Linked DNA regions of Homo sapiens: regions 1 and 2 are each linked to region 3. Evidence: fine-mapped expression QTL. A gene starts in region 3. Each other region holds a variant in brackets. All regions are shown on one strand. Distances are from middle to middle.

Evidence for each region. PIP is the estimated chance that this variant, and not a neighbour inherited with it, causes the effect. A credible set is the group of variants that fine-mapping cannot tell apart.
Region 1: its variant is the best candidate, but not a certain one, in a credible set for the expression of PSME3IP1 in whole blood (TOPMed, PIP 0.69).
Region 2: its variant is the best candidate, but not a certain one, in a credible set for the expression of PSME3IP1 in subcutaneous fat (FUSION, PIP 0.60).

Annotation. Positions count from the first base shown.
Region 1 is chr16:57,126,455-57,130,712 of GRCh38, reverse strand. It overlaps CPNE2 (copine 2), which reads right to left. Exons shown (of 16, transcript NM_152727.6): 12 at 2,810-2,864. Among named protein-coding and RNA genes, the nearest start is that of CPNE2, 36 kb to the right of the region's middle. The variant T/G (reference allele first, on the strand shown) is at 2,193.
Region 2 is chr16:57,265,019-57,269,018 of GRCh38, reverse strand. All of the region lies in intron 1 of PLLP (plasmolipin), which reads left to right. Among named protein-coding and RNA genes, the nearest start is that of PLLP, 18 kb to the left of the region's middle. The variant G/C (reference allele first, on the strand shown) is at 1,547.
Region 3 is chr16:57,183,606-57,187,605 of GRCh38, reverse strand. PSME3IP1 (proteasome activator subunit 3 interacting protein 1) reads left to right here and starts at 1,567. Exons shown (of 7, transcript NM_024946.4): 1 at 1,567-1,785. It overlaps RSPRY1 (ring finger and SPRY domain containing 1), which reads right to left and starts at 1,277. Exons shown (of 15, transcript NM_133368.3): 1 at 1,155-1,277. RefSeq lists enhancers at 1-581, 1,893-1,942 and a silencer at 983-1,192.

The DNA of each region.
Region 1 (4,258 bases), 57 kb after region 3:
CGGATGGTCTCTTCTCAGCCTTACCTCACCAGGCCCAGGGGCAGCCTCCAACCCCACTCCCTCCTCCCCGAGCCCTGACTGCTTGGCTTCCTCAACGATCAAAATGGGTTCATAACAGGGCCTACCTCATTGGCTTTGGTGAGAATTAGTTGAAACTGGTAAAGCAGGCAGAGTGGTATCTAGAACATTCTAAGGGCCCAATAAATGCTGCTACTTATGGGTTTGCTTTCTGCCCCTCCCTCCTTCACTTCCTCCCTGCTCTGCCCCCGGGCTCAGTCTCCGCTTCATCTGCCTGGCTCTCTCATGCAGCTGTCTCTTTTTTTATTTTAATTAATTAATTAATTAATTTTTTAGAGACAGAGTCTCACTCTGTCACCCAGGCTGGAGTGCAGTGCACTCATAGCTCACTGGGCTCCAGGGATCTTCCTGCCTCAGCCTCCCGAGTAGCTGGGATTACAGACTCCCGCCACCACACCTAGCTAATTTTTGTATTTTTAGTAGAGACGGGGTTTCACCATGTTGGCCAGGCTGGTCTCGAACTCCTCACCTTGTGATCCACCCTCCTCAGCCTCCCAAAGTGCTAAGATTATAAGTGTGAGCCACTGCACCCAGCCAACTTTTAAATTTTGTAAAGCCAGGGTCTCACTGTGTTGCCCAGACTGGTCTTGAACTCCTGGCTCAAGCAATCCTCCTGCCTTGGCCTCCCAAAGCATGAAATTACAGGTGTGAGCCACTGCACCCCGCCTCATGTGGCTGTTTCTCACTCCACCTGTCTCCCTAGCAATCTCATCCTCCCAGAGGTGGCACCATGGGTCCTGGCCCAGGTGGCCAGGTCTCTCTCTGTCTCCCCAGAGCCCAAACCCATTGACCCATCAACCACTTATCTTTTTTTTTGTAACAGGGTCTCACTCTGTTGCCCAGGCTGGAGTGCAGTGGCACGATCTCGGCTCACTGCAACCACTGCCTCCCGAGTTCAAGTGATTCTCCTGCTTCAGCCTCCCAAGTAGCTGGGATTACAGGCATGTGCCACCACGCTGGGCTAATTTTTGTATTTTTAGTAGAGACGGGGTTTTGCCATGCTGGCCAGGAAGATCTCAAACTCTCTGACCTCAAATGATCCATCTGCCTCAGCGTCCCAAAGTGCTGGGATTATAGGCGTGAGCCACTGTGCCCAGCCATCATCCACCTTTCTCCTGGGACTCCCACCTTACCATCTCCCCTGCTGAGCCTAGCACCCACCCCGTTCCTCATCTCAGTAAGCAGCACCACCCCCGCCTCAGTGCCCAGTTGGAAATCTTGGTGACCTCTTCGGCCCACACTCACTTGGTCACACAGAAAGTCCTGGCCTCTGCCCTGAGTTTCCTTGCCTTCGCCCCTTCTCTCCACCCTCCACTCTGCCCACTCTCGCCCTAGCCACGCCCCACTCAGCAGCCAGGAGAGGCCTTTAGAAATGCCAATCTGCTGATGAGCCCCTATGTGGTCCCTGCAGGGGTCCCCGTGGCCCTTTAACGCCCACATCTGTCTCCACCCTGCTCACCTCCAATGGAGGGTCTATCACCCACCTCTGCCAGTTCCTCCAGCTCGTCCTGCAGGCTTCGCACAGTCTGTTCTCTGCCCTGAAGGCTCCCCCTGCCCCACTGCCACCTCTAGTCACTCTGCTACTTCCCTTTCCCCTCTTGGCTTAGAGCTTGCCCCCTCCAGGAAGCCTGATGGCCCCAAGCTGGGTTGGGTTACCTCCTCGGCTCCCCACAGGCCTACGGTGCCCCCACCTCAGCACCGATGACACTACCTGTCTTTAGTGTTGCCATATAGAATACAGGATGCCCACTATGACTCAGAAACAGAAAACAAAAAACTGCATGTTCTCCCTTATAAGACGGAGCTAAACAATGGGTGCACACAGAACAGACACACAGAGGGGAATAACAGACACTGAGGACTCCACACAGCGAGAGGATGGAGGGGTGACGGATGAAATGCCACCTACTGGGTACAATGTACATTATTTAGGTGATGAATACACTAAAAGTCCATATTTCACACAATACGTCCTCGTAATACAACTATACTTGTACCCCTAGATCCATACAAAACCTTGAATTTCAGATAAACAATGGATGATTTAAGTATAAGTATGTCCCATGAAATATTCAGGACATACTTATACTTTAAAAATTGTTTATCTGCACTGG[T/G]CACAGTGGCTCAGGCCTGTAATCCTAGCACTTCGGGAGGCTGAGGCCGGTGGATCACCTGAGGTCAGGAGTTTGAGACCAGCCTGGTCAACATGGTAAAACTCTCTACTAAAAATACAAAAGTTAGCTGCGGGGTGGTGGTGGGCACCTGTAATCCCAGCTACTCGGGAGGCTGAGGCAGGAGAATTGTTTGAACCTGGGAGGCGGAGGTTGCTGTAAGTGGAGATTGTGCCACTGCACTCCAGCCTGGGCAACAGAGCAAGACTCTGTCTCTAAATAAATAAATAAATAAAAATAAACACATAAAAATAAACATTGTTTACCTGAAATTCAAACTTAACTGGGTGTCTTGTATTTTGATTTGCGACATCTGGCAATCCTATCTGTCTCCCCCACTCCACATGGGTCTCATAAACAGAGAACATAACGTGCTGCCCCGTTACAGCCTCAGTGCCTGCCCAAGGATCAGGCTTGAGAAATGAGCGTGGCCTGGGGTGAACACAGGGAAGGCAGGGCAACAGGGCCCCAGCCCAAGACCTTTCCAGAGCTGATCCCCGAGAGGCCACACACACAAACCCCATCTCAACCAAAAGGAAACTAACTCCGGTTTCACTCACCTTCCAGTCTGGGGGTAACTGGGCCCCGAATCCCAGAGCTGGAAACATCTTATCACTAATCAGAGAGAGAAGAGAAACACACTGTAAGACACCTGAGGACACCACCCGACCCTCTGCCCAGGGCTGGGCCCACTCTGCCTCATACACTTCCAAGGACAGAAAGGAGGAGCTCACCACCTCTAGAAAAAGCTGTTAGGATCATCTACCTAATGAGCCCAACCCACCTCTGGGGACCTGGTGAACATGTGGCCTGACCACATCTATACCTGTGGCAGACACGACAATGGTACTTCTAACCAATGGGCCTGGGCACAGCTTCTAGATCCTTCTCAAACTGAGACTTCAGCCAGCCACTAAACCAAGGTCAGGAGGTCAAGATGGAAGTAGAATGAATGTACTGGCTGTCTCTCAGCCTCCTGCTCATAGCTGGGGAAAACTCTACTAATATGAGAACCCTCCTGTGGCATTCAAGGTCCTGTGTCATCCAGTCCCAGAGCCTAGTCTTATCTCCTTCCACCCACGCCCCTTCACACCCCACTCCCCTAGCCCTGGCCACTGGCCACTTGCTATTCCCCAAACACATAGGGTACCTTCACATTCCAACTTCAATGCTGTTGTGCCCCCATCTGTAACATCTCTCCCTAATCTGTTTCCTCTAGCAAACTCCTACTCATCCTCTAAGGCCCAATCAAAATGGCCCCTTCGCTCTGTAGATTTCCCTGATACCCTAAAATGCCTCTCTTTTTGTGCTCCCATAGCTCCTGCTTCACATGTAAACTGGTCTCTCAGAACTCCGACGATTTCTTCCTTATCTTCCTCTTTAAGTGAGAACTCCCTGAGGACAGGGACCACATTTCATTTGTATGTGCACTCAACAGACATCTACTAAGGATCCCTTTGGCTGCCGTGGAGGGGACACACAGCTGGGGGCCAGGGCAGAAGCAGGGAGACTGATGAGGAAGCTAATGAAATGATCTGGGCACAAAGTGATGGTGGCTCAGCCAGGCATCTAGAGCTCACTGGGGCCATGCTAAGTCTTAATGCCCATTAGACAGCTCGGTGATGGGCTGAATGGGCAGCTGGACACCTGGGACTCCACCCAACCATGCTGATGATGACTTCCACCTCCCTTGCTCTGCATGTTGTACAGATCCCTGGCTGCCCCTCTCTAGGAGGCCAAGTCCACACAGGGCTCCTGAGCCTGCTGTCTTTCCTGCCAAATCTCTGGCACCTGCTTCTTCCTCCCCTGTTCCCAATGTGTCAGCCTCCTGGTCATTCCATCCTCTGACCTGGAGCTCCCAATCAGCACCATCTGTGACAGTGATGTCATATCCTGTTGGTAGCCACACCTGCCACACTTTCACACAGCTTCCCTTCACTGACTTTCCGTGGTACCCAGCCCGACCCAAAGGTCCCCAGGAAGCAAGGTCATGGGAGGAGGGTCCGTGC
Region 2 (4,000 bases), 81 kb before region 3:
CTTATCTGTCAGGTGGGTGGGGCTGGCACTGACGTGGGTCCTTATCTCTGCCTGGGCTGTGCCTGGTGCTTGAATGTGGATACTGTCATTCTCTCAGTGAGGCCTCACCCTCCTGAGGAGCCTCACACACCGTGGCGAATGCAGGAAAGTAGGCCCAGGGCCTGACTTGAAAACCCATGTTCTTAACCCCTCAGGGTGATCATGACACCTGGCCATGTTGAATATTAAGCCTATGCTGGTTGCTGGTCTAAGTTCCTTGCTCAAAACTACCCTAGGGCCCAGGCAGGAGGATCAGTTAAGCCTAGGAGTTCTAGACTAGCCTGGGCAACATGGGGAGACCCCACCTCTACAAAAATTAAAAATAGCTAGGAGTGGTGGTGCATGTCTGTAGTCCCAGCTACTTGGGAGGCTGAGGTGGGAGGATCACTTGAGCCCAGGAGTTCGAGGCTGCAGTGAGCTGCAATAGTGCCATTGCACTCCAGCCTGGGTGACAAAGTGAGACCCTGTCTCAAAAACAAAACAAAACAAAACCACCCTAGGGGGTAGATACATTTCAAAGATGAAGGAAGATGAAGACAAGGGCACAGAGAGGCTAAGCCACTTGCCTGAGGTCACACAGCTAGTTAAGTTGGCAGGGCCAGAGCGTGAATTCAAGGAGTCGATAGGCCACCCCTCCAACAGAACCAATGCCAGTGTCACTCAGGTGAACAAGGTCATGACACCCATCCACAGATTCAGAGAGCAGCTGAGAAAAACCTATTCATTTCCTGGGGCTGCCGTAACAAAGTTCCACAAACTGGGTGGCAGAAATATATTGTCTCAGTTACTGAAATCAAAGTGTTGGCAGGGTTGCTTTCTTCTGGGGCTCTGAGGGAGAGTCTGTCCCATGTCCCCCTCCTGGCTTCTGGTGGTGACCAGCAAGCCTTGGTGTGCCTTGGCTTACAAATGCATCACTCTCGTCTCTGCCTCTGTCTTCACACGATGGTCTCCCCTTGTGGTCTCTGTGTCCACATTTCTCTTGCAAGGACACCAGTCATTGGATTAGAGATGCCCCCAATCCAGTATAACCCCCCTTAACTCGAGCATGTCTGCAAACACTATTTTCTTTTCTTTTCTTTCTTTCTTTCTTTTTTTTTTTTTTTTGAGACGGAGTTTCGCTCTTGTTGCCCAGGCTGGAGTGCAGTGGTGCGATCTCGGCTCACTGCAACCTCTGTCTCCTAGGTTCAAGCGATTCTCCTGCCTCTCCCAAGTAGCTGGGATTACAGGCACATGCCACCATGCCTGGCTAATTTTTTGTATTTTTAGTAGAGGCAGGGTTTCACCACGTTGGCCAGGCTGGTCTTGAACTCCTGACCTTAGGTGATCCACCTGCCTCAGCCTCCCAAAGTGCTGGGATTACAGGTATGATCCACCATGCCAGGCCTTGTTTTGTTTTGTTTTGTTTTGTTTCTGAGACAGAGTCCCACTCTGTCCCCCAGGCTGGAGTGCAGTGGTGCAATCTCAGTTCACTGCAACCTCTGCCTCCTGAGTTCAAAGTGATTCTTCT[G/C]CCTCAGCTTCCTGAGTAGCTGGGACTACAGACACCCACCACCATGCCCGGCTAATTTTTGTATTTTTACTGGAGATGGGTTTCTCCATATTGGCCAAGCTGGTCTTAAACTCCTGTCCTTAACTGATCATGCACCTCAGGCTCCCAAAGTGCTGGGAATACAGGTATGAGCCACTGCGCCTGGCCAGAGCCTGTTTTCAAATAAGGCCACATTCCCAGGTACTAGGGGTTAGAACTTGAACATATTTTGGGGAACACATTGCAAACCACAATAAGAGATGAGGAAAAACTTCCCTCAGAGTCAGTGAAGGGCATGCACCCTGCAGGAACCTGGCCTGTCTGGCTGTCAGTGTTGGCAGCTTCTGGGGAAACTGTAATAACAGGGTTTCACTGCAGCAAGGAGTGCCTCTTGGTTGGGCATTTGTGACGAATCTTCTCTCTGATGCCACAGGTGGTTTTAACAAAAACATCTCTTCGTTACCCAATTGTTTGGAAATTCTTTGAAGATGCAAAGGTCGTTTTTGACACTGTAGTCTTCATATGTAAAAAAAAGTTCCTAATCCAAATTATTCAGGTTTTCAGAAAAGCAAAAAAAAAAAAAAAAAAAAAGGCCCTGTGCCCTTGAGATTTCCAGACAGTTCCCTTTGTTTATCTGCAGGACCTGTCTGGGGAGGCATGGCAGGGACCTCAGAGAGCTGGGAAGGAGGGGAGGATGTGGTTTGCCTGTGTGTGTAGGAGAGAGACAGTTAGATATTCATGTAGACACCTCCAGAGAAACACGGGGACAGACGAACATGTAAGCAAGAGAGACCTGCAGGGCCCAGGGGTGAAGGCATAGAGTTCTGTTCTCAGATACCCACGTGGCACCCTCCCTGCCCCTCCCTCACCTCCCTGGGTCTTTGCTTATCATCACCTTGCCAGTGAGATCTTTCTTGGCCCCTTCTCCATAGACATTTGTTAAATATATTAACCCAGAGAGATGCCCACAGCGAGGCCTGTGTTGGGTGCCCTGTTCCGAGCAGGGTCTCTCTTGGGGGACTGGGCTGGGGGCTCAGGAACCAGGAGAAACCAGTCTGTCTGGTTCAAATGCAGGAACGAACCTTCCTTGTTCTAGGGCAGAAACCGAGGCAGCTCCGCAGGCACAGAGCCAGGCAGCACAGCCAGAAAGAACGCCAGAAATTCCCAGTCCTTATCCACCGGCTTCATCTGGACGCTGTGTTCGCTGATCTGGAAACCAGGGGTGGGGCTGGAGCACAGCACAGGGCGGGGCAGGGATGGCGGCGGGCAGTGGGGGGAGCCTGGGTGCCCAGCCCAGACTGGCTCCTAGAGCCAGCTGAAGTGTCCTCATTTTTTACACTTCACTAAATAACTCATAGTAGCGCAGGTTCCAAGGAAGCACGGATCTGGGTTCCTGTCCTTCCCTATCCTTTTAAAATTTTTATTTATTTTTTGAGACAGGGTCTCTGTCACCTAGGCTGGAGTGCAGTGGCGCCATCATGACTCACTGCAGCCTTGACTTCCCAGGCTCCATTGATCCTCCACCTCAGCTTCCCAAGTATCTGCGACCACAGGCACATGCTACTATGCCCAGCTAAATGTTATATTTTTGGTAGAGATGGGGTTTTCCATATTGTCCAGGCTGGTTTCGAACTCCTGAGCTCAAGTGATCCACCTGCCTCAGCCTCCCAAAGTGCTGGGATTACAGGTGTGAGCCACTGCACCCGGCCTCCTGCCCTGTCCTTTACCCACAGTGACCTCAGGCACATTGCCTCCTGAGATTCCCTTTGGAAGATGGGAATAACAGATAGAACATTTGAGGAGGGTCTGGTGATGGAGGAATCAATGAGATGTGTCTGGCACAGAGCGAGAAGGCATTGAGTGGTTATTGTGACCTAGGCTGTGAGTCATGGGACAGGTGATTGATAGGCATATGATAGTGGAAACCTGAATTGGTCTTTTCTTGATTTTTGGTTCATTGCATTTTCTGACTTTCCTTTAGTTAGTTGGAAGCTGGCAACACAGTGGCAGCGGAGGCCCATGAGGAATTGGCTTTAAATGAAAAAATAATTGTTTATCTTGGACGCACCCAGTTCTCACCTGGAGAAGGGACGGAGGCGTGCTGCCCGAAGTGTTTGTTCTCCTTCAGAACACTGGCCTCCCCCCAGCTCTGGGGGTTCGTGGCCTCTCCAGGTGTGTCTGTTTCTGGCAGGGTGTTGTTCTGAGACATCCTGCCCTGGGTCCACACTCGTAAGGGCTCTGCCCCCAGCTTGGTGTGTGACAGCGGGCAAGGCCCTGTGGCTCCGCCCTGGCTTCCTCACCTGCCTACCCTCACCTGGCCTGCTTGCGGCGGTGAGAGTGCTGACGGGCAGCAGAGGCTGGCAGGGTGCTGTGTGTTGGGGGGTGGATCCCTGGAGCTTCACCCCAGTGTGGGGAGGAGCAGGTGCTGAGCCCTGG
Region 3 (4,000 bases):
AATCACACTAACTTACGTTCACGCAGCTTGTAATTTGTACTTTCACATACTGCGCTGGTTATTTTACAGTAGAGACTTAAGGAGGTTAAGTCACTCCACTAAGCAAGAACAGATGGTAGGTAAAGGGCCTGGAAAACTGCGGGATTCTACTCAGTCGATAACAGACACTTCTAACCCTTCAAAGTTCAAAGTACAACACTCCAGGGGGAGCAACCTCTCTCAGAGAACTATACAAGACAGGACCTCGGAGTCTCAGCCGACCGCCTCGGTCTCAGTCGGTTTCCCTCCCCAAAGACGGGGAAAGTGAGGCAGCAGGAGAGACAAATGCCTAATTTGGACTCACGCAAGGGGTGTTGGTGGGATAGACTCTCCCCACCCCACTCGGGCAATAAGCCCGGAAGCAGTTGGATCCTGTGTCTGGGACACCTGGTCGATCTACAGAGAGAGGGAATAATTCCCGTTTCCCTTTCACTACTCCCCACTCTGGCTTTCCTGTGGATGGAGGTGTCTTCTTCCCATCACCGCCCAGAAATCCCCTCTCCCCAAGGTCCTTACCCAATTTTCAGCTCCGGCTTCCGTAGTAGGACATTCCGCTAGTTCTAGCTCCTGCTTCCTAGCCCCATTCTCTCTCTATCCCAAGGCGTTTCTAAATCTCCCCGGGGAGGTATGCCTCATCCGTGCCACCTAGACCGTAAACTCCACAAAAAGAACCCTCCTAAAGCGTCCCTTCATCTACCCTTTCTATCCCGGGCACCCCTGAGTAGGTCAGGACCCCATCGGTACCAGGAGCCACCCCAGGAGATAGATAGCTGCCTCTCACCTGGGCCCTGTTAGCCGCAGCCTCCTCAGAAGGGCGACCCCCAAGAACCTCTTCTGGTGAGGACCCCCGAAAGAGGGAACACCCTCTTCTAGGAACCTCTTCAGATCCCTCAAGCGCGGGCCTCGGTGGAAAACCTCTCGGCTGTTTCTCAGGTTCTGACCAACGCCACCTCTCTCCCGGGCCCTTTCCAGAGCCTACCCCGGCCCCAGTCCGGTCCGCCCGCCCCAGGCTCGAGCGGCTGTTCCCCTCCCTCACAGACGTCCCCAACCCTCAGACTCCCTCCCGTTCCGCGTGCCCAGGGCTCAGAGCAGCGCGGTCGGGCTGTGGCACTGACTTTCTCTACCTCCCGGGCCCACCGGAGGGAGGGGGCGGCGGCGGCGGCGCGACTCCTTTGTGACAGGTCCGAGAGAACGGCAAAGATGGACGCGAGGCCACGGCGCTGCCATTACGCGCAGAGCCCACCCCCGCTTCGTACCGCCCCAGCCCTCCCTCAGTCCCCTAGGAAACGCCCCTTCCTCGGTGGCAAGCCCTCTCCTTGACAGCCAATCACCTTTCAAAAATCGTGTCACGTGATCAGCGGGACCGGCCCGCCCTCCAGGCGCAGACTGGCCAGTCCTCATCCTGAGGCGTGAATGGCCCAATCAAGTCTCTCCGGCTCGTTTTCAGGGTACCGGATTTCCATCGGGCTCCCGGGGAGGAAGAGCTCCGCGGATTGGGTTACGTCGCCGGAAGTGGGGCGGGACTCTATTGTGGCGGTGAGGAACAGGAAGCCCTGAAGGGTCAAAAGAAATACAAAAGCAAAGGCTATTTTCTTTTTTTTTTTCTTTCTTTCATTCATTCCTTCCTCTGTTTCTTTCTTTCTTCCTTTCATTTTTTTTTCTTTTTTAAGAGCGAGCGGCTCTGCGGTGGCGGTTTGGGGTGGGCGCCGCCGAGGTGAGGTCGTCTCGCCTCCCGCGCGCCGGTAGGTGAGTGCGGCCTCGGTCCTGGCCTGGCGGCGACACCTGGGTTCCAGCTTCCTTACGGAAGAGATGAGCTGCGGCTGCTGTTAGGGTTAGGGCCAGGCCTGTTCTCAGTCCGCGCACCCGCTCCTTGTCCGGAGTAGCCGAAGCCTGGGGCTTGCGGGCCCAGCCTGAGGGGAGCTGAGGGTGCCCGCGGGAAGGCATCTGGGTCGCGGCGAGGACCCTTTCAGGCGGGCCCAACACTGCCGGGCGTTTAATGGGGTTTCCCCAATTTTCTGCTAGGTAGGGCCACCCAGGTTTCAAGTGAGTAGCAGGCTCCGTTCCAGAGGTCTTGGAACAGGTCCAGGTTACTCACTCGGATGTGCGGCGTCTGGTTGGAAATGGTTGAATCCCAGAATGGCAGTGCAGGATGGGAAGCACATTTATTGTGTGCCATGTACCAGTTGCTGTGCCAAGCGAATTTTCTATTACGGAAAACAAGCCAGCTGGCCCGTTTTGCAGAAAACTTAAGAAACAAAGAGAGTTGAAGCGTCATGCTTGAGAGTTGGTGGTCCTTGTGACTGTCAGTCCACACAGAGGAAAGGGGGAGACCTGTTTGTTCGTAGTCGTGGTTCTTTAATGTTAGTGGAAAACAAGATCTCCTGGGGCCCTTTTAAAATGCAGTTTCTCAGACTCCCGCACGCTCGGGTAGCCCGACTGGTTAGTTCAGGAGTGGGACCCAAGAAGCCAGATGCGAGCCTGGTGATCGGAATTCCCGATGACCTCTTGCCTACCACCTGTGACATAAGATTTGTCGATTCATCAGTTATTTGGTGTATTCATGTGTCCACAGGGACACCATAAAATGGAAGGCACCCTTCTGAAATATTTGAAGGGAATCAGTGGGTAGACTCCTTTTTGATACAAAGTATTGAGCCGACAGCAGCTTTTACAGTCTTTTAGTTAGATGACCTGCGAACAATTTGTAAGGATCTGAAAGTAGAGGCTGCCCGATTATCTTTCTCAACTGAAGTCTTCATGTCCTTACCCTGTGGGGAAGTGCTTCATGATATAAGAAAGGAATAATTGTGTCAAAACCATTTAGTTGATTATCAGTCTTCACTTTCATCTTCCAAGAATGGTGATGCTTGGTTAGAATCAAGCTGCTGCTTTAGCTATTGAAAACCACGTATGTGGTAAATCAAGTAACAAGTGCGATGTACGTACAGGGTCAGTCATAGTGTAATTATGCCTTTATGGCAGCTAAATTAAGCATTTTCAACGTGTTCACCATTAGTCACCTTTTGAACATACTTTGTCTTCATTCTTAAATATTATGTTTCACTCTTTACTATAGAATATGTTGTTAAGATTGTTTTGTCTAAAATCAAGTATCGACAAGTTTAAAAAAAAGATTGTTTTGTGTTTGGTTTTCTGTATTTCCACTATGCTCTATGGAACTATGGGTTTGTTTTTGTTCAATTTGTTTGGTATTTATTAGACTTCTTGAATCTGTGGATTAGTGTCTTTCATTAATTCTGTAAAATTCTCAGCCATTTTATATGCATATATTGCTTCTTCCCATTGTTTCTCTTTTTTTTTTTATCGATTTAACTAAACCTTTTCACTCTTTTCTCTATGTCTTTTACTCTGTTCTTTCGTAGTACATTCTGGATAATTTATTCTCAAGTTATTTCCATTGTTATTAAACTCGGCCTCTGAAATCTTAAATCATATATTGCAATTTTTAGTTTCTGAAGTTCTGTTTGGTTTGTGACACTTTTACAGTTTTTTATTTCTTACTATTTTGAGGCTTAATTTTATTTCTTTAAACATGGAAAGTATAGTTGTTTTTATAATCTCTATGTTTAATTCCACTGTCTGAATTCCCTTTGGGGGAGTCTGTTTCTGTTGTCCATTATTCCTGCTGTTTTACTTCCCAGTTCACCTTTACTTTGAAGCTGTAGTTCTTTTGGGCACAAGATTAAGATGGAGAGGGAGGTAGTTGTCAGACTCCACTCCCTGGATGGGCTCCTGGCTTGAACTTGTTTCTGTTATCTCATAAAGGCACTGAAACTTTAGCTTTTAGGTCAGAGAAGTCCTCAGGATGAAATCCATTTTGAATATTGGGCTTAATTTCTGGTTTTCACCTTCTAGATTGTGTCCAAATTCTTTACTATCTTGTTAGCTTTTCTATTTAAGAATTAATATTTTTGGCTGGGCGTGGTAGCTTACACTTGTA